Regions from separate parts of the Homo sapiens genome. Here all the other regions are linked to region 3. The links come from fine-mapping of genetic effects on gene expression. A gene starts in region 3. Each other region holds a variant in brackets. All regions are shown on one strand. Distances are between the middles of the regions.

Region 1 (8,174 bases), 420 kb after region 3:
TCCACCCACCCATCTACCCATCTGTCCACCCATCCAACCACCCATCTGTCCATCCATCCACCCTCCATCCATCCACCCACCCATCCACTCATCCACCCACCCGTCCATCCATCCATTCATCCACCCACCCACCCATTCATCCATCCATCCACCCACCCATGCATCCATCCATCCACCCATCCACCCACCCGTCCATCCATCCATTCACCCACCCATCCATCCACCCATCCACCCACCCGTCCATCCATCCATTCATCCACCCACCCATCCACTCATCTATCCACCCACCCATCCATCCGTCCACCCGTCCACCCATCCACCCACCCATCCACCCATCCACTCATCCACCCACCCATCCATCCACCCATCCATCCATCCATCCACCCATCCACTCATCCACCCACCCACCCACCCGTCCATCCACCCACCCATCCATCCAGCCATCCGTCCACCCGTCCACCCACCCATCCACCCATCCACTCATCCACCCACCCATCCATCCACCCATCCATCCATCCACCCATTCACTCATCCACCCACCCACCCACCCGTCCATCCACCCACCCATCCATCCAGCCATCCGTCCACCCACCCACCCATCCACCCACCCACCCATCCATCCACCCACCCATCCATCCATCCATCCGTCCATCCATCCATCCACCCATCCACCCACCCATCCACCCACCCATTCATCCATCCATCCATCCACCCGCCCATCCATCCATCTGTCCATCCATCCATCCACCCATCCACTCATCTACTCATCTACCCACCCACCCATCCATCCATCCTTCCACCCTCCATCCATCCACCCACCCATCCATTCATTGTCCATCTGCCTGTCCATCCATCTACCCATCCATCCATCATCCACTCACCCATCATCCATCCGTTCACCCACTCACCCACCCATCTATTCATCTTCCATCCATTCTTTCATTCATCCATCCACCTGCCATCTTTCTGTCAGTCCATCCACCCATCATGCATCCATTCAACAGGAGGTGAGGCTGCTTAGTCCATGCCCTGCTTAAGTGCTCCCTGGCTCCCCAGCTGGCCCAGGATGAGCCCCTGCCCGTCATCACAGCCCAGGTCCTGTGGCCTCTGCTTCCTGCCTGCATTCTCACATCTGTCTCTGCTCCTTGCTCTCCCTGCTCCAGGTACATGGAGCCGTGGAGAGGGGCAGAGCCTGGGCCGGCCCACACAGTGACCTGTACACACCTCAGAAGCCCTCAGGCTGATGTATCTGTGGGGTAAAGTCCTAAAAATGGAGCTGCAGGGTCAAAGTGTTTGCGTGTTGATCATTTAAAGAAACTGAGGTGGACTTCACATAACGTTATTCATCATTTTGCATGTTGCATTTTTCACAGTTCAGTAGCATTTCGTACATTCATAATATCGTGCCACCACCCCTTCTGTCTAATTCCAGAATTTCTCATGACCCCAGTAGGAAACCTGTTCGTGTCAGCCTTCATTCCCCGGCTCCTGGCACCCACACATGCTCTTGCTGCCTCTGTAGGACATTTCATAGAGATGACGTGGGCTGTGCCCCTTACCCTCCCTCCAGCAAGGGCCAACGTTGGAAGGACGCTGTGGCCTTCGCCTCCTGGCCCTGTTCCCCCACCCTTTACGGCACTGAAGCAGGTCAGGGACTCGGTGGGACGCCTCTGCCCCTCTCGTCCCTCAGTATTATCAGTCATTGAGATGGTGAATTCCCTTTTCATGGAAACAGCTGTCTGGGCCAGAAGCCCGCAAACTTCCTGTGGAGGGCGAGGCCAGCAGTGTGTGCATCTGTGGCTGCCCTGGACGTCTGCCCCACTGTTTGCCAGACCCTGAACTGGGCGCTGGAGATAGGGAAGTGCTCAGGATCGCACCATCCCCACGCTCCTCGGCTTCGGTGCTGGTGGAACAGAAAGAGACCGACGAGGGCAAGACGGTTAAATGAACAAGCAGCATAGAGCGTCTGGGGGAACCACCAGGCTCCTGAGAAACAGCAACACAGAAAAACATGCCTGGAGTCAGAGGGGGCGGCTCGCAGGACAGTGTCAAGGCTGGGCCTTGAGGTGGGGGAGGCACGACGGCCCCAGAGCCACCAGGGACAGAGGAAAGGGCTCGACCCCAGGGGTGGTGGAGGCGGCGAAGGGCTGCTGGGAAAAGGGACGTGGCTCCACTGCGGGGGTTCCGATGGCATCTGACACCTGTTCTCTCCCCTCAGTACATGGGCTGCATCGAGGTTCTCCGCTCTATGCGCTCCCTGGACTTTAACACGCGCACGCAGGTGACCAGGTGAGCCTCCAACCCTGCCCTGGCCGCGTAGGGCTGAGTGACGCACTGGAGGGCGGCAGCACTGGAGGGCGGCAGCGATGGGCTCTCCGACAGCCGCGCTGGGGTCCCAGGACGCAGCCTCGGTGCCCCCCACCTCCCTCCCACTTCACGCCACGTCTCCGCCCTGTCCCCACGCCAGGTGTCGGTCACCGTGCCCTGCAGACCTCGATCCTCTAAGATGGAAAGAACACGCCGGTCGCTCACAGGGTGCTGGGCAAGTCCCCGCACGGCGTGGGGTGCAGGGCCTGGCGGGTTCCCTCTGGGACCGGGGCCCAGTGGCGTCTCCGTGTCCCTGCTCTGTTTTCCACACGGTGACCTCAGGATGCTATGCGGTGTCTGGAAAGCAATCACAGGGGCTGTGGATATGGCCAGGGCTTAAGCAGGGAAGAGAGCGACACCCTTTTTTTCTGTGAAAACTGGTTGATTCCATTCGTATAGACTTAAAAAAACCATGTGAGACAGTTTACACGTGCGTATGTGAGATATAATGTACAGTTTGAGACTTTAGGCTCTTCACAGAGTCACACGATCACCACTGTCTAGTTCCGAACATTCTCATTACCCCATCAAAACACCCCGTCCCCATCACAGCCACTCCCCGTCCCCTCCCCAGCCCCGGCACCCACGCATCCCCTCCCTGTCTCTGTGGATCGGCCTGTCCTGGACATTTCATAGCAATGGGATCACACGCTGCGTGGCCTCGTGTGTCTGGCGTCTCTCACTGAGCATGGCGTTCCCGAGGTGTGTCCGCGCTGTGGCCTGGGTCAGAGCCTTGCTCCTTTTTTTTTTTTTTTTTTGAGATGGAGTCTCACTCTGTTGCCCAGGCTGGAGTGCAGTGACACCGTGTCGGCTCACTGCAACCTCTGTCTCCTGGGTTCAAGCATTTCTCTTGCCTCAGCCTCCCCAGTAGCTGGGACTACAGGCGCCCACCACCACACCCAGCTAGTTTTTATGTTTTTAGTAGAGACGGGGTTTCTCCATGTTGGTCAGACCGGTCTCGAACCCCTGACCTCAGGTGATCCGCCCGTCTCAGCCTCCCCAAGTGTTGGGATGACAGGTGGGGGCCGCCGCGCCTGCATGCATTTGTTTGTGTCAGGCCCACAGTGCTAGGATGACAGGCAGGAGCCGCTGCATCTGGCCAATTTTTAACCTTTTGAGGAGCCCCCAGGCTGTTTTCCACAGTGGCCGTGCTGTGAAAATTCCCACATGCCCTGGGTGGGGGATCTGGTTTCTCCACGTGACGCCGACATTTCCGGGGCCCCTTCAGGACCCTGTAGACTTCTAACCTCTCCTGGGGACCAGTGGTCTGAGGCGCTCTTGTTTGGGGTCAGCTCCTGCCACCACTCAGGCTGCAGACAGGATCTCGACACGGACCCCGCGTCAGGCTCAGGGCCTCCTGCTCGCTGCTCCAACCCCCACATCTGATGCC[G/A]AGCCTTCCTTGTGGGCCGAGGCCAGGGACACACTGGTCCCTGGGAAAGAGGGTGGTAGAGGGGCCAGAGCTGGGGGCCGGGCCTCTGCCGGATGCAAGGACGCACGTGGAGTGGGCTGGTGCCCAAGCTGCACCTGTCCTGTGGGGCACTCCTCCCCCAGGTTCCCCAGCCCCCTCCCTGCCCACTTTAGGCCCCCTGATCCTCTCCCACCCCTCCCTCTCTGCCTTCCTCTCCCCTCTCTCTCGCCCTTCTCTGAGCTCCTGCCCCCTCCCCAGACCCCCGCCCTCTCTGACCCCTTCCTCCCCAGCTCCCTCCATGGCCACCCCCACCACACTCTCTAAGCCCCCTCCTCCCAACCCCAGGGAAGCCATCAACCGGCTCCATGAGGCCGTGCCTGGCGTCCGGGGATCCTGGAAGAAAAAGGTGAGTGAGGCTTGTGGTCTCTCGTGGGGCTGGTGGGGCAGTCGGGGGCTGTGGGGACGCTGCGGCCATCCTGGGAGCCCCTCGACAGCCCCCACCCACAGCCGCCCTCGCTGTGCTCCGCCCCCAACTCAGGCCCCCAACAAGGCCCTGGCGTCCGTCCTGGGCAAGAGCAACCTTCGCTTTGCCGGCATGAGCATCTCCATCCACATCTCCACTGATGGCCTCAGCCTCTCCGTGCCTGCCACGCGCCAGGTGGGTCTGCCCTCTTCGCCTGGCGTCCCCAGACCCCCAGAGGGGCCAGGAGTCCTAGGAGGCAAAGCCAGGTGGGGTGCTGGGGGCGGGCAGCAGGTGGCGTTTATCCAGAAAGACGAGCCGAGGCCCCGCTGAGCAGGAGCTGGGGGTGCAGCCACTGCCCTCACGGGGCTCAGCTCAGGGGCTCCCACCTGGGCGAGCCGTCCTGATACAGGGGCGCTCCTGGCATGGAGTGGGTGGGGGCAGGGACGCTGCTCAGCACCCTGCAGGGGCCAGGACGCCCCACCCCAGAGAGTGGTCCGTCCCAACATCCACAGTGCCTGGGGAGGGGCGGGGATAAACCCTGGCTATCAGTCCTCAAGTGGAAACAAACAACAAAAGTATAATTGCAGACCAGGCTCGGGCTTGGTTGCTCACGCCTGTAACCCCAGCACTGTGAGGCCGGGCTCAGTGGCTCACGCCTGTAACCCCAGCACTTTGGGAGGCTGAGGGGTGGGCAGATCACTTGAGGTCAGGAGTTCGAGACCAGCCTGGCCAACATGGCTGACTCTACAAAAAATACAAAGATTAGCCGGGTGTGGTGGTGGGCGCCTGTAATCCCAGCTACTTGGGAGGCTGAGGCAGGAGAATCGCTTGAACCTGGGAGTGGAGGTTGCAGTGAGCCAAGATTGCACTACTGCACTCCAGCCTGGGCAACAGAGTGAGACTCTGTCTCAAAAAACCAAAAAACAAAAAACTATAATTGCAGAAATAGAGGAAATAACAGATTTTAGGAAGCATTGTGAGGCCAGGTGAGGGGTGTCCTGAGCATGTGCTGGGCTCTGGGTGCTAGAAGAGACTTCCTGGAGGGCTCTGGGAGGTGGTGAGGAGGGGAATCTCAGGTGTGGCTGAAAGAGGAGGCATCGCCTTGTCGGAGAAGTTAGCATGGATCATCGTGAGGAGTTTGGGGTGAGACAGCATCTCTGAGCTGGTGTGGTGGCAGCAGGTGGCGGTGAGGGGCAGCTGGGGCTCCAGGGAGGAGGCTAGAGAAGGATGGAGCTGGCGGGGGGGTGACTGAGGGCCATTTCCACGCAATTTCCATCTCTGCCCCCACCCTGCGAGGCATGGACCCCTGACCACTATATGGACAGGATACTGAGGCTCCAAGCAGACCCTCCTGGCTGGGCCGGGGTTGGCAAGGGGAGAGCCTCGAGGGTCCCTATGGGGGCTGAGAAGTGGATGTTCTGTAGGGAGGACTCAGGACGTGGCTGGTATCGGGGGCTTACTGGGGCCTAGAGGGATTTGAGTGACGGGAAGCAAATGAAGCAGGACCATGCAAATGAGCATGCAAACAAGCACGCAGACGAGCACACAAACAAGCACACAGATGAGCATGCAAACAAGCACGCAGATGAGCATGCAGATGAGCACACAGACGAGCACGCAGATGAGCACACAGACGAGCACGCAGACGAGCACGCAAACGAGCACGCAGATGAGCTCGCAAACGAGCACGCAGATGACCACGCAAACGAGCAAGTAGATGAGCATGCAAACGAGCATGCAGATCAGTAGGCAAACAAGCATACAAATGAGCATGCAGATAAGCATGCAAATGCACTCACAGGTGCCCTTGCACGTGGACAAGGGAGTCAGGAGTGTGGGGCCGTCCCTCCCGTGGCTGCTTCGGGTGTGTGTGTGTGTGTGCATGTGTGTGGGGCTTGGGGTGTGTGTGTGTGAGCGTCTGGGCAGGTACATGTGTGAAGTGTTACAGTGGGGGAGGTTTGTCCTCTCACACACATTCCCGTGTGACCTCCTGCGGACCCCACACATCCCTTAGGGCCCTAGTCCCTTCCTTGCTGGGGACTCCACATCCCAGCCTCGGTCGTCCAGGCTGACCCAGGACCCGGCTGCAGTGGGTGCCTGTCCAGGAGACGTCTCCATCCCCACATCCCTGCCCCTGCCCCACTCTTCGCTGTGGTCCTGGTCCATCTGCCGGGCCCCCTGCCCTCGAAGCGGGGCCCCCATGACCGCGTGTGCCTCCTGCCGCCACAGGTCATCGCCAACCACCACATGCCGTCCATCTCCTTCGCGTCAGGCGGAGACACGGTGAGGCCAGGGATGGGGGTGGACCTGCAGCCCTGCCGCCCCCCTCCGGCCGCGAGACCCTCTCATCCTTCCCCAGAGCCCGCCTAACGTACCCTGTGCCCACATCCACTGCCCCATCTCTCTGCATTGCTGGGGTGGGCAGCTGGGAATCCCGGTGGGGGGCCCAGGCAGGTCCAGCTGGCCCCTCCCCGCCCCCAGGACATGACGGATTACGTGGCCTACGTCGCCAAGGACCCCATCAACCAGAGAGGTGAGGCCCCCGGGGAGGCCGGTGGGGGTCCTGTGGCTGGGGGGCACGGCCGTGTGGCTCGGAGGCTGCATGACCAACGTGCCCGCAGCCTGCCACATCCTGGAGTGCTGTGAGGGCCTGGCACAGAGCATCATCAGCACCGTGGGCCAAGCTTTCGAGCTGCGCTTCAAGCAGTACCTGCACAGCCCGCCCAAGGTGGCGCTGCCCCCAGAAAGGTAACCAGAGCTGCCTCCCCCGTGCCCTGGGGACACCCCCAGTGACCTGCCCAGGTGCAGAGCCTGCTCCACCTCCTGCAGGCCTCAGCCTCCGTCCTGCCCTTGTCCCTCCCTCCCTGTCCCGTGAGAATATGGCTCAGCCAGAGGATCCTGTTTCCTCGGCTGTTAACACCCGAGTAAACGCATCCCCGCCTGCCCCCCAGGATTGGGGAGGACTAAGCAAGCTGACTCCCCGGTGTGCCTGAGGCTGTCAGCCCTGCTGCTACAACCAATATCCCTCCTCCAGACGCGCGGCCGGCTCCCGCAATGGGCAGAAAACGGCCTCCGTCTCACCGCAGAACATGTGTAAAGGGGGGGACGTGTCTGTGTGCTGGTAACACGTTTTTTATAGACATTGAAGTGTGAATGCCACGTGTTGCAAAATATGATTCTCTAGATGTTTTCTCAAACACTTAACTTTGATAATTTAAAGATTGAAAGCCCATTCTTAGCTCGTGGGCCACACAGATCTAGGCGGTGAGCTGGATTTGGCCCTGGGCTGGGGTTTGCCAGCTGGCCTTGGAGAAGGAGCTATTTAAGTCTCTATTCATCATTAGAAAGTCAGCTTCCTCCAATGGTGGGAGGGCAGGTGCAGGTGCATGAGCTCCCAGCCTGCTGGTCACGAGGGAGGCGGCATCGCACGCCTGCTCACACTCACCCCTTTGTGCACGGGGACAGCGTGCTTGATGCACGTTGCTCAGCACGCTCCGAAGCTGAGACGGGCTCCTCGCCTGCCTCCAGAGCTGCCTCTGCCTTCCGTAGGCTGCTTCATAATTTATCCCAGCAGCGACTGTGGGCCAGGTGGGGTGCACCCCTCTGGCTCTCGGGGCCGTGCTTGCTGAGGAGCACCTGCAGGATCAATTCCTGCCAGTGCCATCGGGGCCAGAGGGCGGGGGCGCTTTGATCCCAGAGAGTTGCCACCCTGACCGGTGATGTCCTGGTTCTGGGTATAAACTTGGCTCATGCCCTCTGCTGCCGGGCGGGGCCGGAGGTGGGCAGAAAGGAGTGGAGACTGGGTTTGCCAACGACCTGCCTTTTGTGCTACAGCTCGGAAATGTGTGCAACATTCCATTTTATAGATGAGGAAGTAGTGGGCCTGGTCACTGGCTCTAGAAGCGTTTCCCGGTAGGAACCCTCAGTGACAGGTGG
Region 2 (8,163 bases), 21 kb before region 3:
AGAGGGCCACTGCCATTCCTTCCCCCAGGGCTTGTAGTGAGTCACCAGGCAGGTGAAGAGGGCTGCTGCCATTCCTTCTCCCAGGGCTCGTTCCTTCGCCCGGTCCCCAGGGCCTTGTTGGGCCTCATTCCTTCCCCTGGGCCTCGTGGTGAGTCACCAGGCAGTTTGGGCTGCGCTGGCTCCTGCAGCAGCACCTGGCGCCACCCCGTGTGGCTGCACAGACCTGCACCTTCACTGCCCGGTGCCCCCGCTGGGCACGTCTGTGTCTACCATCTGCCCACAGCCAAGCCACTGGGCAGTCCTGGGCTCCGACACTCCTCCTCGTCTCCTGCAGCCGTCCTCACCTGCTGGCCCAGCTGTTACCCGCCCGAGAGCCACGTCTCACACACATGCCACAGCCTTTCTCAGGTCTCACATCCCTGGCAGCTGGGGGTCACTGGGACAGTCCCCACCGCACCCATCTCTCCCCCATCTCTCCCCCTACCGCCCCACGTGCCCACCATGCCAGGCTTTGGTCCCCGCCATGCCCAGCTCTTCACGCACCGCCCCACGTGCCCACCGTGCCAGGCTTCGGTCCCCGCCATGCCCAGCTCTTCACCCACCACCCCACGTGCCCACCGTGCCAGGCTTCGGTCCCCGCCATGCCCAGCTCTTCACCCACCGCCCCACGTGCCCACCATGCCAGGCTTCGGTCCCCGCCATGCCCAGCTCTTCACGCACCGCCCCACGTGCCCACCATGCCAGGCTTCGGTTCCTACCATGCCCAGCTCTTCACCCACTGCCCCACATCCCCACTTAGCAGCTTAGCTTCTCCCTGCCTCAAGTCCCCCCTCATTTAGGAATGCTGACCGCAGCCGTCAGTTGGATGGAGGAGGGGATGTAAATCGTGCTGTGAGGGTACCCTGGCCACTAGCTGGGGGTGTGGTCGTCATGGCAGCTGCCTCCCCCGGCGCTGGGGCGTTGAGTTTCCTGTCTTTCCTATGAGAGGCTCAATTCCATGAGGGCCAGCCACCCCTGACCACTGTGTGCCCTCTGGGCGTCTCAGCCACTCTCTGGGCCTGTTTCCCCCCAGGGAATGCTGCTCACAGGACCCCTATACGGGTTTGCAGGAGGTCAAGGCTCTGTGACCGTGATGGCCCGTCCGGGGCAGAGACCTCATGATGCGGGTGGCACAGAGCAGCTGCGTGGTAGTCAGCTTCAGCCGAGTAACAAGCCAGCCCCAAACTGAGCAGCTCAGGCCAGCAGCCCTGCACTGTTTCTGTTTCTGTGGCTGCCTCAGCTGCGCTCTCCTGGTTCCCACGTGTCTGCGGTTAGCAGCCGAGGTGGCGTGGCCTGTCCACTGGCCGCACATGCTCCAGCAGGCCGGCTCCAGCTGCCCTCCGTGTCCCACATGCAGCCACAGCAGGACCCCCCACACGTGCTCTCTGGGCCACTGTTTTTGTTTTTTGTTTTTGAGCTAGGCTCTTGCTGTGTTGCCCAGGCTGGAGTGCAGTGGCGTGATCTTGGCTCACTGCAGCCTCATCTTCCTGGGCTCGAGCAATCCTACCTCAGCCTCCTGAGTAGCTGGGACTACAGGCGTGTGCAGGCGTGCATCACCACCACACACAGCTAATGTTTACTGTGTTTTTTTTGTAGAGAATGGGGTCTTGCTGTGTTGTCCAGGCTGGTCTTGAACTCCTGGACTCAAGCCATCCTCTGGCGTTGGCTTCCCAAAGTCTTGGGGTGGCAGATGTGAGCTGCTGTGCCCGGCCATGTCACATTTGCTAAGGCTTGGCCTGAGATTCCCAGAAGTCTCTGCCCTGTTGGGAGGAGCTGCGTCTTCACGCAGGGGCTGTCAGGCAGCGGATCTGTGGGTGCGACCATCCCGCATGGCTTTATTGGAATTGTAGATGAGGAGGGATGGGAATCCCGGCTGAGCTGGCTAAGGCCGAGCGAGTGTTAGGGTTTGCATGGCTGCAGGTCTGAGGTGGCGCCGTCTCCCCACTGTCTGCCCCATCGGGGGTGAGATGGTGCCGGCCCACAGGTTTCCATGAAATCCCAGGGCCCACCTTGGGTCACGTGCCCATCCTGGAACCAATGAGTGGCCGAGGCACGAAGCGCTCGGATTGGCCGGGCCTGGTCTTCTGGGCATGGGAGCAGGGCGGCATGAGACCTGGGAAGGGCCCTGGGCAGGTTGCACACCAGGCCATGCTGGACTCCTGCGGCTGTCTCAGCCTGTCTTTACTCCATTGCCTTCCTGTTTTCCTGCCCCTGATTTTTCAGTTGGCGACAAACAGCCCACAATTCTCAAATGGCGGATCCTATCGGCCACCAACGATCTGGACCGTGTGTCGGCCGTGGCGCTGCCCAAGCTGCCCATCTCGCTCACCAACACCGACCTCAAGGTGGCCAGCGACACACAGTTCTACCCTGGCCTCGGTACGGTGGAGCCAGCGGCAGCCACGCGGGGCCTCAGTTCACACCAGGGGAGTTGGGCCCTGAGCACAGGCCACGGGGTCGTGGGAGCTCACACCAGAGGACGTGGGCTCTGAGCACAGGCCATGGGGCTGTAGGAGCTCAGCCTTCTGGGTTCTGATGGGTTCCCAATTAGGAGGCAGATCTCATCTTTCGGGATCTGTGAGGCTGGCAGACAGATCCAGTGTTCTTTAATATGTAAAGAGTCATTGCAAATCAACAAGGGAGCCTGGGGAACTTGGTGGAACTCCTTCCTGGGTAGGCGGCATGTGTCCTCTCTGTGCTGCAGCAGCCATAATGTGGTCCTGAGCTCAAACCGTGGCATCCGTGCCCATGAGTGAGTCTGCACACTCTTCAGTGCCTACCCTATTTGCTCAGCTGTAAAATGTGGACAAGTCGGCCCTAGCTCAGGCCCTTTCTTCCCCCAGCTCCCGTTCTTCCCTGGTTCCCTGGAAAGAGCATTTATCAAAACCCGCTCGGGGCTCAGGGCTGTTCCTCAGAGCCTGCAGAGAGGTTGAGGGGATGCAGTTCCCTGCTCCAAAACCCTTGGTTTATGCTCCATTTTCCAGGCTCTATTTTTTTTTTTCTTTTTTTTTTTGAGTTGGAGTCTCATTCTGTTGCCCAGGCTGGAGTGCAGTGGTGTGATCTCGGCTCACTGCAACCTCCGCCTCCTGGGTTCAAGCGATTCTCCTTCCTGCCTCAGCCTCCCGAGTAGCTGGGACTACAGGCGCGTGCTGCCACGCCCGGCTAATTTTTTGTATTTTAGTAGAGACGGGGTTTCACCGGTGTTGCCCAGGCTGGTCTCGAACCCCTGAGCTCAGGCAATCTGCCCGCCTCAGCCTCCCAAAGTGCTAGGATTACAGGCGTGAGCCACCGCGCCCGGCTTTGCAGCCTCTCTACTGCAGGGACTCCTTTCATATTCTCTTTTCCATGAGCTTTGGGCTCTGGACCCCACCTCCCCCCGGCCCTCGTACAATGGCAGACCCCAGTGTGAGTGACAGCCCCAGCCCACCACCCTAAGATGCCTCTCTTTGGGACGCCAGGAGCCCCAACCCTTGGTCCCCCACCTGTAGTGCCCCCCTCCCCTGCGCTCCTTGAGGGGCGTGTCAGCCAGGACATGGGCCCAGCTGGGAGGGGCGGGGAGGGGCTGGGAGCAGTGTGGCCAAGGCTGCTGGCTCCTGCTCCCCTGGTGCTCAGGGACTGTGTAACTAAAGAAAGAGTGGCTGGGGGCACGGGCGCTGGATGCCGATTGGCGGGGGCTGACCCCCTGGATGGGCAGCCCCGGCTCTCCACACCCTGCAGAGCAGGAGGCCCCTCCCCCGGCGGGCGTGTCCTGGGCCCTGCCCATGTCTAAGCAGTGCCTGTGCCCCACAGGGCTGGCCCTGGCCTTCCACGACGGCAGCGTCCACATCGTGCACCGGCTCTCACTGCAGACCATGGC[C/T]GTCTTCTACAGCTCCGCGGCCCCGAGGCCTGTGGATGAGCCGGCCATGAAGCGCCCCCGCACCGCGGGCCCCGCCGTCCACTTAAAGGCTATGCAGCTATCGTGGACGTCACTGGCCCTGGTGGGGATTGACAGCCACGGGAAGGTGAGCTGCTGGGGCACGTGGGGCCGGGGCTGGTGGGCATTGACAACCAGGGGAAGGCGAGCTGCTGGGCATTGACAACCAGGGGAAGGTGAGCTGCTGGGGCACGTGGGGCTGGCCCTGGTGGGGATTGACAGCCAGGGGAAGGCGAGCTGCTGGGGCACGTGGGGCTGGGGCTGGTGGGCATTGACAACCAGGGGAAGGCGAGCTGCTGGGCATTGACAACCAGGGGAAGGCGAGCTGCTGGGGCACGTGGGGCTGGGGCTGGTGGGCATTGACAACCAGGGGAACGTGAGCTGCTGGGGCACGTGGGGCTGGGCTTGGGGGGCATTGACAACCACGGGAAGGTGAGCTGCTGGGCATTGACAACCAGGGGAAGGCGAGCTGCTGGGGCGTGGCCCTGGTAGGCATTGACAACCAGGGAAAGGCGAGCTGCTGGGGCACGTGGGGCTGGGGCTGGTGGGCATTGACAACCAGGGGAAGGCGAGCTGCTGGGGCACGTGGGGCTGGGGTTGGTGGGCATTGACAACCAGGGAAAGGTGAGCTGCTGGGGCATGTGCGGCTGGGGCTGGTGGGCATTGACAACCAGGGGAAGGTGAGCTGCTGGGGCACGTGGGGCTGGGCTTGGTGGGCATTGACAACCATGGGAAGGTGAGCTGCTGGGCATTGACAACCAGAGGAAGGCGAGCTGCTGGGGCATGTGGGGCTCGGCTTGGTGGGCATTGACAACCATGGGAAGGTGAGCTGCTGGGCATTGACAACCAGGGGAAGGCGAGCTGCTGGGGCACGTGGGGCTGGGGCTGGGGCTGGGGCTGGGGGGTATTGACAACCAGGGGAAGGCGAGCTGCTGGGGCACGTGGGGCTGGGGCTGGGGCTGGTGGGCATTGACAACCGGGGGAAGGTGAGCTGCTGGGACATGTGGGGCTGGGGCTGGGGCTGGTGGGCATTGATAGCCAGGGGAAGGTGAGCTGCTGGGGCACGTGGAGCTGCGGCCGGGGCCGGGGCCGGGGCCGGGGCCGGGGCTGGTGGACATTGACAACCAGGGAAAGGTGAGCTGCTGGGGCACGTGGGGCTGGGGCTGGGGCTGGGGCTGGTGGGCATTGACAACCAGGGGAAGGGGAGCTGCTGGGGCACGTGGGGCTGGGGCTGGTGGGCATTGACAACCAGGGGAAGGGGAGCTGCTGGGGCACGTGGGGCTGGCCCTGGTGGGGATTGACAACCAGGGGAAGGCGAGCTGCTGGGGCACGTGGGGTTGGGGCTGTTGGGCATTGACAACCAGGGGAAGGTGAGCTGCTGGGGCACGTGGGGCTGGGGTTGTGGCTGGTGGGCGTTGACAACCACGGGAAGGTGAGCTGCTGGGGCATGTGGGGCTGGGGCTGGGGCTGGTGGGCATTGACAACCACGGGAAGGTGAGCTGCTGGGGCACGTGGGGCTGGGGCTGGTGGGCATTGACAGCCAGGGGAAGGTGAGCTGCTGGGGCACGTGGGGCCGGGGCCGGGGCCGGGGCTGGGGCTGGTGGACATTGACAACCAGGGAAAGGTGAGCTGCTGGGGCACGTGGGGCTGGGGCTGGGGCTGGGGCTGGTGGGCATTGACAACCACGGGAAGGTGAGCTGCTGGGGCACGTGGGGCTGGGGCTGGTGGGCATTGACAACCAGGGGAAGGCGAGCTGCTGGGGCCCGTGGGGCTGGGGCTGGGGCTGGGGCTGGTGGGCATTGACAACCAGGGGAAGGTGAGCTGCTGGGGCACGTGGGGCTGGGCTCGGTGGGCATTGACAACCACGGGAAGGTGAGCTGCTGAGCATTGACAACCAGGGGAAGGTGAGTTGCTGGGGCACGTGGCGCTGGGGCTGGGGCTGGGGGGCATTGACAGCCAGGGGAAGGCGAGCTGCTGGGGCACGTGGGGCTGGGGCTGGGGCTGGTGGGCGTTGACAACCACGGAAAGGTGAGCTGCTGGGGCACGTGGGGCTGGGGCTGGGGCTGGGGCTGGTGGGCATTGACAACCACGGGAAGGTGAGCTGCTGGGGCACGTGGGGCTGGGGCTGGTGGGCATTGACAACCAGGGGAAGGCGAGCTGCTGGGGCATGTGGGGCTGGGCTTGGTGGGCATTGACAACCACGGGAAGGCGAGCTGCTGGGGCACGTGGGGCTGGGGCTGGGGCTGGGGCTGGGGCTGGTGGGCATTGACAACCAGGGGAAGGTGAGCTGCTGGGGCACGTGGGGCAGGGGCTGGTGGGCATTGACAACCAGGGGAAGGCGAGCTGCTGGGGCACGTGGGTCTGGGGCTGGGGCTGGGGCTGGGAGGGTGCCAGAGGGAGGCGCCCCCGGGGGAAGGGACCACAGGTGCAAGCCCCTCGCCAGCCCCTGCCTGCGCTGCCTTGTCTGTGTGATGGGTTCGTCTTGTTGAGCGAGGTCAGTGGGGTGGCTCACAGCACGTATTAGGAGCTTCGTAACTAGGAGCTGTTGAGAGGACCGCCTTTCACGGGGTAGACTCCTCAGGTAAAGCAGACGAGTGTAAGCCTGGCTCGGCATCCAGTGCAGTCGGGGCTCAGGGAGGTTTCCTTCCCTGTTCCCAGAGGCATTGTGCATGACCCTGACAGAAAGGTACAGACGCTACAGACACATGCGCGCACACAGGCCCACACACGGGCGTGCGCGCACACAGATCCACACACGTGCCGCAGCCCCAGGGCCCCATTCCTCTCCCGGCTGAGGGCGCAGCCCCATCTCACCGGGCTCTCCTTGGGCTCTGTCTCTGGCAGCTGAGCGTGCTCCGCCTCTCACCTTCCATGGGCCACCCGCTGGAGGTGGGGCTGGCGCTGCGGCACCTGCTCTTCCTGCTGGAGTACTGCATGGTGACCGGCTACGACTGGTGGGACATCCTGCTGCACGTGCAGCCCAGTATGGTACAGAGCCTGGTGGAGAAGCTGCACGAGGAGTACACGCGCCAGACCGCTGCCCTGCAGCAGGTGGGGGCCCGTGGCAGGTGGGGCCCCGTGGCAGGTGGGGGCCCTGTGGCAGGTGGGGGCCCCGTGGCAGGTGGGGCCCCGTGGCAGGTGGGGGCCCCGTGGCAGGTGGTCCCGTGCCAGGTGGGGCTGTCCCTGTGGCAGGCAGGGGCCCCGTGGTCAGTAAAGTGCCAGCAGCAGGGAGGGAGTTCCCTTGGAGGGTGGAGGAGGTCTCTGCAGCAGTTGTAGAGGTCCCCACGGCAGATGTGGGGGTTGTGGCAGCTGGAGGGGTTTCCCTGCGGCAGGTTGGGGGCTCTATGGCAGGCGGAGGGCAAGAGGGGCAGGTAGCCTGTGGCAGGTGAGGCTGCGTGTGGGGTGTGCTCCCAGAGGCCCGTCCAGGAAAGCTGCACCTCAGAGAAGCAGTTTCCTTCCTTACCTGGGAAGTTTCTTCTGTAACACGTTAAGCCCCACAGGTAAGGCCTGATCCCCCCTGGACGGCTCCCCTCTCCAGTGTTCCCAGTCTGGAGGTATCTTTCTAAGCCATCCTCTCAGAATGTGATGGGTACCAGGATGCACACCCGGTGGCCCTGTGGTGTGAGGCCTCAGCAAACACGGTCAGAAGATGAACACACAGAGACCCGCCCGTCGGAAGGAGAGGAGGGAGCGGATACGGAGGCCCACGTGCCAGAAGGGTCCCTTGCAGTGGTGTGGTTATGTGCCTGCAATCCCAGAGTGTCCTCGAAGGACCTCAGATCTAACGAGCTCAGCCGGCAGCTGCACGTGGGACCAGCCCTCTGAGCTTCACTTGTTTTCCTCTGTGCCATCAGAAACCAATACGAAGATAAAATGGGAAAAAAAAAATCCCATTCACGGCACAGCCTGCCGAGAAACGCGTGAGACCCAGGCGGGGGCTGCGAGGCTAAACCCCAGCGTGGCTGGGATCCGTAGCCAGTGACAGCGCTAGTGATGGCGAGACCTCGCCCTCTCCCTCCTTGGGCCGTCGCTGTGTGCCAAGCGTTTCATTTTTGTTTTTAGTTGTTTCTATTTTTTGTAGAGATGGGGTGTCCTACGTTGCACAGGCTCTCCAACTCCCAGCCTCCAGGAATCCTCCAGCCTCAGCCTCCCAAAATGCTTCAGCTCATTCATTCATTCTCTCTAGACCAGGGTCTCCCCGTAGGCACCAC
Region 3 (8,174 bases):
CAGCTAATTTTTTATTTATTTGTAGAGATGGAGTCGCGCTACGTGGCCCATGCTGATCTCGAACTCCTGAGATCCAATGATCCTCCCACCTCGGCCTCCCCTTCTGCATATAGTAGGTGCTCAATAAAGACCAACCAGATGCAGGAGTGGATGACTTCATTGCTCGGGACTTTGTTGCTTGGGTGACCCTGACCTTCAGGCCCCGGCACCCTAGGCCAGGACGCTGTCGATCCAGGCCGCATAGCTCGCCACGCGGGTGTAGATCCCGGGCTTCTTGCGGTTGCCGCAAACGCGCGAGCCCGAGGTGACCACGCCCTCGAGCACGCCCCCGCACACCAGCGGGCCCCCGGAGTCACCCTGCCGGAACAGGACGGGGCCGTGAGGGGCGGCCCGCGCCCACCCCGGCCTCACGTGTTAGACCCCCTCACCTGGCTGCCGCTCCCGCCCCACAATGCTCGCTCATCCCTCCCGTGTTAATTTGGTCTTCACTAGTCAATAGCCCCGCGCCACGCCTATCGCCTAGGCCACAACCACAAGCCACGCCCCTCTAGGCCCGCCCCCAGCTCCTGGCCACACCCCCTCTGGCCTCAACCTCACCACGTGTTCCCCCGACCCCACCCCGCTCCAAGCCCTTTCCAGTATGGGGGTCCCACACCTCATTCCTGCTCTTCCAAGCTTTGACTTGCCGTGGATCCCACTTCTGCCCTAACGCGTCTCAGTGGCCACCTGCTCTGCTCAGTCCCCACTCACCTCAGGCCACGCCCCTCCCTTAAGCCCCACCCAATCTTGGCCCCGGCTACCATGCAAGCCTCGGCTGGTCTTAAACCTCTGCCCTGCTCAGGACCCCTTCTCTTCCCTGCCACAGCAGGGATCCCGCTCCGCACCAGCCCTGCCCCTTCAGAGGTTCCCGCCCCTTCCACCTGCCCCGCCCCGTCCCCATGCCCCGCCCCTTCCTCCACGTGCCCGCCCCCTATACCTCCCACCCTTTCTCTGCCACCTGCCCTTTTGCCCGCCCTGACCCTTCTCCAGCCCCACCCTCCCCACAGGTACCGCCCCTTCCTCCATGCCCTGCCCCTCATGCCCCAACCCTCTTCCTGGCCTCGCCCCCTTGCAGTCCCGCTATTACTGGACTCCGCCCCCTCCTCGAGCCCCGCCCCCTATTCCCACCCTAACCCACAGGTCCTTCCACATCCCACCCGTTCCTGCCCTTTCTGCCCGCCCTGACCCTTCTTCAGCCCCACCCTCTCCAGAGGCCCCGTACCTTCTCCAGGCCTCGCCCCCAAGGCCCCACCCTACCCACATGCCCCGCCCCCTCATACAGGCCCCGCCCACGGGCCACCCTCATGCTCCGCCCATCTTCCAGTTCCCGCCCCCTACGCGCCCCGCCCCTTCCCTGGGCCCTGTTCCTACTTGCCCCCCGCTTCGCGCTCCCTCTGCAGGCCCTTCCCGGGGCCTGCAGGCCCCGCGTCTCCTCCCAGGCCTGAAGGCTCACCTTGCAGCTGTCCCGGCGATTGCTCTCCGCGCACATCAAGCGCTCGGTGATGGCGCCGTCGTGGTGCGTGCGCCGGTTGCAGGTGGCGCGGTCCAGCACTGGCAAGAGCACGTGCTGCAGGCTGTCCGGGCGGCGGCCCGCGTGGTTGACTATGCCCCAGCCGGCCACGTCGCAGAGAGTTCCCGGTGCCACGTCGCGGTCCACGCGCTGCCAGGGCAGGGGGCGCACAGCAGGGCCCAGTGTGGCCTTCTCCGACAGCTGAGGGTGGAGGCGGACGTCAGGGTTGGGGTGCGGGGGTGCGAGGCTGGGGAGAATGCCGCTAGGCTCGGGGAGACGGGACGGGGGAGGTGGGCATCAGGGCAGGGGCGTGGGTCTCAGTGCAGCAGGAGAGATTTAGGCTAGACCCTGGGTGGGGGTGCAGGTGGGGATGGGGTGGGTGCGAGGCTCACCAGTGCAGCTGCAAAGGTCGAGGCTGGAACCGGGATGGGGATGCAGGGGGAGCGGGGGGTGGGGGGCTCCCAGTGCAGCCGCAGAGGTCGAGGCTAGACCCGGGGTGAGGGTGCGGGGGTTGTAGGGCGGGGTCCCCATGCAGCAGGAGAGGTCGAGGCTGGACCCGGGGTGAGGGTGCAGGGGGTGGGGGGGCTCCGAGCGCAGCAAGAGAGGTCGAGGCTAGACCCGGGGTGAGGGTGTGGGGGTTGTGGGGCGGGGTCCCCATGCAGCAGGAGAGTTCGAGGCTGGACCCGGGGTGAGGGTGCAGAGGGTGGGGGGGCTCCGAGCGCAGCAAGAGAGGTCGAGGCTAGACCCGGGGTGAGGGTGTGGGGGTTGTGGGGCGGGGTCCCCATGCAGCAGGAGAGGTCGAGGCTGGACCCGGGGCGCGGTGTAGGCGGGGTGGAGTGAGGGTGGGCCGGGGATCCCAGCGCCGCAGGAGGGACTGCGCTACACGGGGCCGACCTGTAGCAGCAGGAGGTCGTGGTCGATGGTGTCGGGCTGGCTGTCCGGGTGGGGCACTGCGCGGAGCACGTCGTACAGGCGCTTGGAGGGCTCCGGCTGCGACAGGGAGTGCGCGCCCAGGAGAACCTGCACCTTCCCGTCGGCCCTGGGGACCGGACGGAGTCCGCGGTCGGTGCCAGCCGACTCCCCCCACCGCACCCGGGCTCTTCCCCCGCGCGGCGCGGGCACTCACGCGTCCTCCAGGCAGTGCGCCGCGCTCAGCACCCACTGCTCCGCCACCAGGACGCCGCCGCACAGGTGCGCGCCGTTCAGCTGCACCGACGCCATGTAGGGCCGCGCGTGCGCCTCGGCCTCTCTGCCGCCCAGGATCCGACCACGGGGCGGCGCCGCTGTGGGTGGGCGGGCGCGTGAGGGCCGCGGGGTGGACTCCTCCCCCGGGCGAGGCTGCCTGACGGGATCCCAGCTCTCACCCCCCAGGCCGCTCCCCGCAAGAATCCCATCTCTGGGCGCGGTGGCTCACGCCTGTAATCCCAGCACTTTGTGAAGCCGCGCGGGGGCGGGGGGGGAGGGGGGGGTGCAGATCATGAGGTCAGGAGTTCAAGACCAGCCTGGCCAATATGGTGAAACCCCGTCTCTACTTTAAAAAAAAATACAAAATTTAGTCGGCGTGGCCTATAATCTCAGCTATTCGGAAGGCTGAGGCAGGAGAATCGCTTGAACCCGGGAGTCGGAGTTTGCAGTGAGCCGAGATCGCACCACTGCACTCCAGCCTGGACGACAGAGCGAGACTCCCTATCAAAAAAAAAAAGAAAGAAAAAAAAGAATCCCGTTTCCGTCTTGGGGCCCCTCAGCGTTGCAAACTCAGATACCCTCGGGCGGGAATGCCCCAGAGTACAGAACCCACAGTGGGCTGGGGACCGGGGGCAGATCCCAGCGCCCTACCCTGGGCGCAGTGCCTTCCAGTTGGACATAAGAGAAATGGGGCTGACCCAGCCAGTGCCTGGGCCAGCCCAGTCAGCCACGCAGATGAAGTTTTCCACGCAGACGTTCAGACTCTGTCTGCAAGAAAAGCTGACTCCAGAAAGTTCCGATTTCCAATCTGAATTTTCTAGAATTTTTCAGCGTTCAGAGCCTTCCATTAGTGAGGAGAGACACCCCCTTCCTGCCCACCTGGAGGGGCTGGAGGACCGTCCGTGTGACGGAAGGGAGCACCACGCCCCTACACAGCCCTGTCCCTCACCCCAGGCCCAGGCCTCCTCACCGCAGGCGGCCGCTCCTAGGAGGACCAGAACTGCCAGGCGCTCCCAGCTGTGCATGGTGAAGCCGCTGTGGCTGAGACACTGACCCAGGCAGGGCCCTGGGGGTGCTTTTATGAGGGTGGAGGGGGCGGGCCGCTCCCCGGGTGGGCAGCGGCCCAGCTGGGGAAAGGGGAACTCGCCCGCCCAGCCTCCGCCCTCCCCGGGACTGGGTTACCTCCTGCCAGACTCACACCAGAGTCGACAAGTCGCTGGGAGACCCTCGGGCCTCTGTGAGCCTGACAGCCTGCTGGCCCTGGTGGGGGGCAGTCCCTCAGATGGGCAGGAGGCAGAGAGGGGGGCTGCACCCACCCCGGCCCCAACTTCACCACACCCAGAGTCCCCCAGGGTGTTTCACAATCCTAGCTGGAGGCCACAGCGTGTAAACAACCCACTTTCTTGTCCTGCTACCCTCCCTTCTTTTCCTCCTCTATATTAGAGAGAAGGTCTGTTGGGGGTAGGAAGGTCACTTGACACCTTTGTCTCTGTCCCTGTGGCCTCTGGGGCTTGACACCCTGACGAATAGAAAGTTGGAAAGGCCAAGGCAGAGGCAGCTGGGAAGACTGGCTACAAGGGACAGGAAAACCCAGACAAACTGGGTGGAGCCTGAATCATGAAAGTTATATGGAAAGTTCAGGGATGTCCGCCTTCAGGTGTGGCTTGATCCAGGTGCCTGAACAATGTCCAGTGTCTGCTTCTGGCTTCTCCTTTCTTCTCTGATGGCTTCTTTCCTCACCAGCCTCCCCTGGTGTGTTTCCAGGGACCCCACACTCAACCCAGTGGCTCAGTGGGCCCCTCCTAAAATTCTTCCTCACTCCAGCCAAGTCTCAAGGGTGCCTTGGGTTGGTGGAGCCTGGATCACACGCCCCCTCCCAAACTGTTCACTGAGGGCAGGTTCTGATGAACAGAGTCAGGGCTGGCCGGGCACAGTGGCTCCCACCTACCATCCCGGCACATTGAGAGACCCAGATAGGAGCATCTCTTGAGCCCAGGAATTCAAGGCCAGCTTGGGGAAGACGGCGAGACCCCATCTCTACAAAAAAATTAAAATAAAATACTTCTCAGAATCTGGGCCATAGGGCCTTTTGTGAGGTGGGGATTTGTGTGTGTTGTTTTTGTTTTATTACAGACAGGGTCTTGCTCTTTCATCCAGGCTCGAGTGCAGCGGTGCAATCATAGCTCACTGCAGCCTCCTCGACCTCCGGGGCTCAAGTGATCCTCCCACCTCAGCCTCCAGAAGTGCTGGGACTGCAGGCCTGCTCATGGTGTAGCTCCATTTTTCACATCTGCCCCACAGGGGCCAGCGGGATTCACGTTGCATTAATCCATGGTGCGGGGACCAGAAGGATGGGGATACCTTGTGGGGAGGACCTCAGACATTGTCCCCAGGGGGAGCAGCACACGAGGTTCCCCCGGCTTTTCTCTTCACCATGGATCATTTCTTTCTTTTCTTTCCTTTTTTTTTTTTTTTTTGAGACGGAGTCTCGCTCTGTCGCCCAGGCTGGAGTGCAGTGGCGCGATCTCAGCTCACTGCAAGCTCCGCCTCCCGGGTTCACACCATTCTCCTGCCTCAGCCTCCGGAGTAGCTGGGACTACAGGCGTCCGCCACCACGCCCGGATAATTTTTTGTATTTTTAGTAGAGATGGGTTTCACCGTGTTAGCCAGGATGGTCTCGATCTCCCGACCTCGTGATCCGCCTGCCTCGGCCTCCCAAAGTGCTGAGATTACAGGTGTGAGCCACCACGCCTAGCCTCATTTCCTTCCTTCCTTTCTCTGTTTTTCTCTTTCTTTCCCTTTCTTTTTCTTTCTTTCTTTCTCTTTCCTTCTTTTTTTCTTTCTTTCTTGCTTTTTTTTTTTTTTTGCGACAGAGTCTTGCTCTGTCGTCCAGGCTGGAGTGCAGTGGCACAATCTCGGCTCACTGCGACCTCCACCTCCCGGGTTCAAGCGATTCTACTGCCTCAGCTTCCCGAGTAGCTGGGATTACACGCATGAGCAACCACACTGGGCTAACTTTTTGTATTTTTAGTAGAGACAGGGTTTTGCCATGTTGGCCAGGCTGGTCTCGAACCTCTGACCTCAGGTGATCCGCCCACCTCGGCCTCCCAAAGTGCTGGGATTACAGGCATGAGCCACCATGCCTGGCCCCCTGTGGATTATTTCATACGCACAGAGAATAGAAAATGATATAACAACAGGGCTGGGCGTGGTGGCTACGCCTGTAATCCCAGCACTTTGGGAGGTCAAGGCGGGCGGATCACGAGTTCAGGAGATCGAGACCATCCTGGCTAACACGGTGAAACCCCGTCTCTACTAAAAATACAAAAAATGAGCCGGGCGTGGTGGCGGGCGCCTGTAGTCCCAGCTACTCGGGAGGCTGAGGCAGGAGAATGGCGTGAACCCGGGAGGCGGAGCTTGCAGTGAGCCGAGATCGCGCCACTGCACTCCAGCCTGGGCGACAGAGCGAGACTCCATCTAAAAACAAAAAAGAAAAAAACACAATGTGGGGAAGTCACTTCTGCTCCATTGCCCTGGCTGTGCTGCCCCCTGGTGGTGGCTTACTCCAGAGATGCCCAAGAGACTCTGGATTCTAGTTTGTTGTTTATTATTATTATTATCATTATTATTTATATTTATTTATTTATTTATTTATTTATTTATTTATTTATTTATTTATTTTTGAGATGGAGTTTCGCTCTTGTTGCCCAGGCTGGAGTGCAATGGAGCGATCTTGGCTCACTGCAACCTCCACCTTCCAGAATTCAGGTGATTCTCCTGCCTCAGGCTTCCCGAGTAGCTGGGATTACAGGCATGCACCACCACGCCCGGCTAATTTTGTATTTTTAGTAGATATGGGGTTTCTCCATGTTGGTCAGGCTGGTCTCGAACTTTAGACCTCAGATGATCCGCCTGCCTGGGCCTCCCAAAGAGCTGGGATTACAGGCACGAGCCACCGCACCGGTATTTTTTTTTTTTTTTTTTTTTTTTGAGACGGAGTCTCTCTGTGTTGCCCAGGCTGGAGTGCAGTGGCGTAATCTCGGCTCACTACAGCCTTCGCCTCGCAGGTTCAAGCGATTCTCCTGCCTCAGCCTCCCACGCGCCACGACGCCAAGCTAATTTTTTTTGTATTTATAGTAGAGATGGGGTTTCACCACGTTGGCAGACTAGTCTTGAACTCCCGACCTCAGGTGATCTGCCAGCCTCGGCCTCCCAAAGTGCTGGGATTGCAGGCGTAAGCCACTGGGCCAGGCTTGGACCATTTTATTTTATTTTATTTTATTTATTTATTTTTTTTTAATGGAGCGGGGGTTTTGCCATGTTGCCCAGGCTGGTCTTGAACTCCTGAGCTCAAGTGATCCGCCTGCCTCAACCTCCCAAAGTGCTGGGATTACAGGTGTGAGCCACCACGCCCGACCTACTGACCATTTTCAACACCCAATCACACAGCCAAGGAGCATCAAACACATTCTACAAAACAGAGAATGTTTATTGTGCCAGATGCTGGAGAGTGTGGGTGTGGGCAGCTGAGGTGACCCGGGCAGCCCTTCTCAGTGGGTCCTGCTGGCCGGGTCCGGGTCCCGGGGGTGGGGACAGGGGTTGTCCTCGGAGCGTTGGATGATAGAGTCGATCCAGTTTACAAACTGTGCCACCGGGGCAAAGGCATCGGGGTAGAGCCCTGAGGCGCAGCCTCCCCGGACGAAGGAGGCAATTCCGTGGATTAGCCCGTTGCAGACCAAGGGGCTGCCGGAGTCCCCCTGTGGAGGCAGACAAGGTGGGGAAGCTGGACTGCGAGGCCCTGCCCACCTGCCCGCCGCCTGTCAGGGTTGGGAAGTCCCTCCTAGGGTCTAGCCACGGTGCCTGTTGCTGCAGTCCGGGCTGGGAGCGGGTGGGGAGCAGAGGGACACCCAGGGCACGTACGAAACAGACGCCGGCCTGCCGGCCCCTCACGAGAGTGCAGACGTTGCTGCGACGGCAGAGGGACGTCACCACCGTCACGTTGAGCTCCTGCAGGACGCTGGCGATCCCACGGTTCCTGCCCAGAAGGCCCCAGCCCATGGCCAGGCACTGCACCCCGTTGCCCAGGCGGCGTCCCTGAGCCGGCAGCTGGGCCACCTGCACGTTGGCGTTGATGGTGGCCGACCCGTTGAGCTGTGGCGGTGGGGACAGATCGTCAGCGCGTCACACGGGGCAGTGATGATGACCCTCCCCTCTCCGGGCCTCAGTTTCCCCATCTCAGGTTCCACTGTGGTTCTGGGATCCTGCAGGGCAGGATACCCACCCCACACTCTGCTCCCCAAGGCAAGCCTCGGTTTCCCCATCTGTAGAGTGGGAGCCGTCACCAAGGCTCAGGGCGTTGGAGGTTGTCCCTGGATGTGGCTTGAGTGCAGGAAGCAGTAGGTGCTCAGTTAACAAAAAAACTACAGCCGGGCGCGGTGGC

Evidence for each region. PIP is the estimated chance that this variant, and not a neighbour inherited with it, causes the effect.
Region 1: its variant is fine-mapped to the expression of CFD in spleen (GTEx, PIP above 0.99).
Region 2: its variant is fine-mapped to the expression of CFD in whole blood (INTERVAL, PIP above 0.99).

What each region holds. Positions count from the first base shown.
Region 1 is chr19:434,977-443,150 of GRCh38, reverse strand. SHC2 (SHC adaptor protein 2) reads left to right here. Exons shown (of 13, transcript NM_012435.3): 2 at 2,219-2,289; 3 at 4,121-4,181; 4 at 4,314-4,433; 5 at 6,468-6,521; 6 at 6,720-6,771; 7 at 6,860-6,986. Among named protein-coding and RNA genes, the nearest start is that of SHC2, 22 kb to the left of the region's middle. RefSeq lists an enhancer at 6,407-6,908. The variant G/A (reference allele first, on the strand shown) is at 3,758.
Region 2 is chr19:875,814-883,976 of GRCh38, reverse strand. It overlaps MED16 (mediator complex subunit 16), which reads left to right. Exons shown (of 16, transcript NM_005481.3): 7 at 2,263-2,418; 8 at 3,829-4,040; 9 at 6,797-7,003. Among named protein-coding and RNA genes, the nearest start is that of MED16, 13 kb to the left of the region's middle. The variant C/T (reference allele first, on the strand shown) is at 3,896.
Region 3 is chr19:855,275-863,448 of GRCh38, reverse strand. It overlaps CFD (complement factor D), which reads right to left and starts at 3,785. Exons shown (of 5, transcript NM_001928.4): 1 at 3,705-3,785; 2 at 2,676-2,832; 3 at 2,444-2,588; 4 at 1,493-1,750; 5 at 1-357. The coding sequence starts at 3,759. The coding sequence ends at 211. It overlaps ELANE (elastase, neutrophil expressed), which reads right to left. Exons shown (of 5, transcript NM_001972.4): 4 at 7,655-7,885; 5 at 7,206-7,491. The coding sequence ends at 7,285.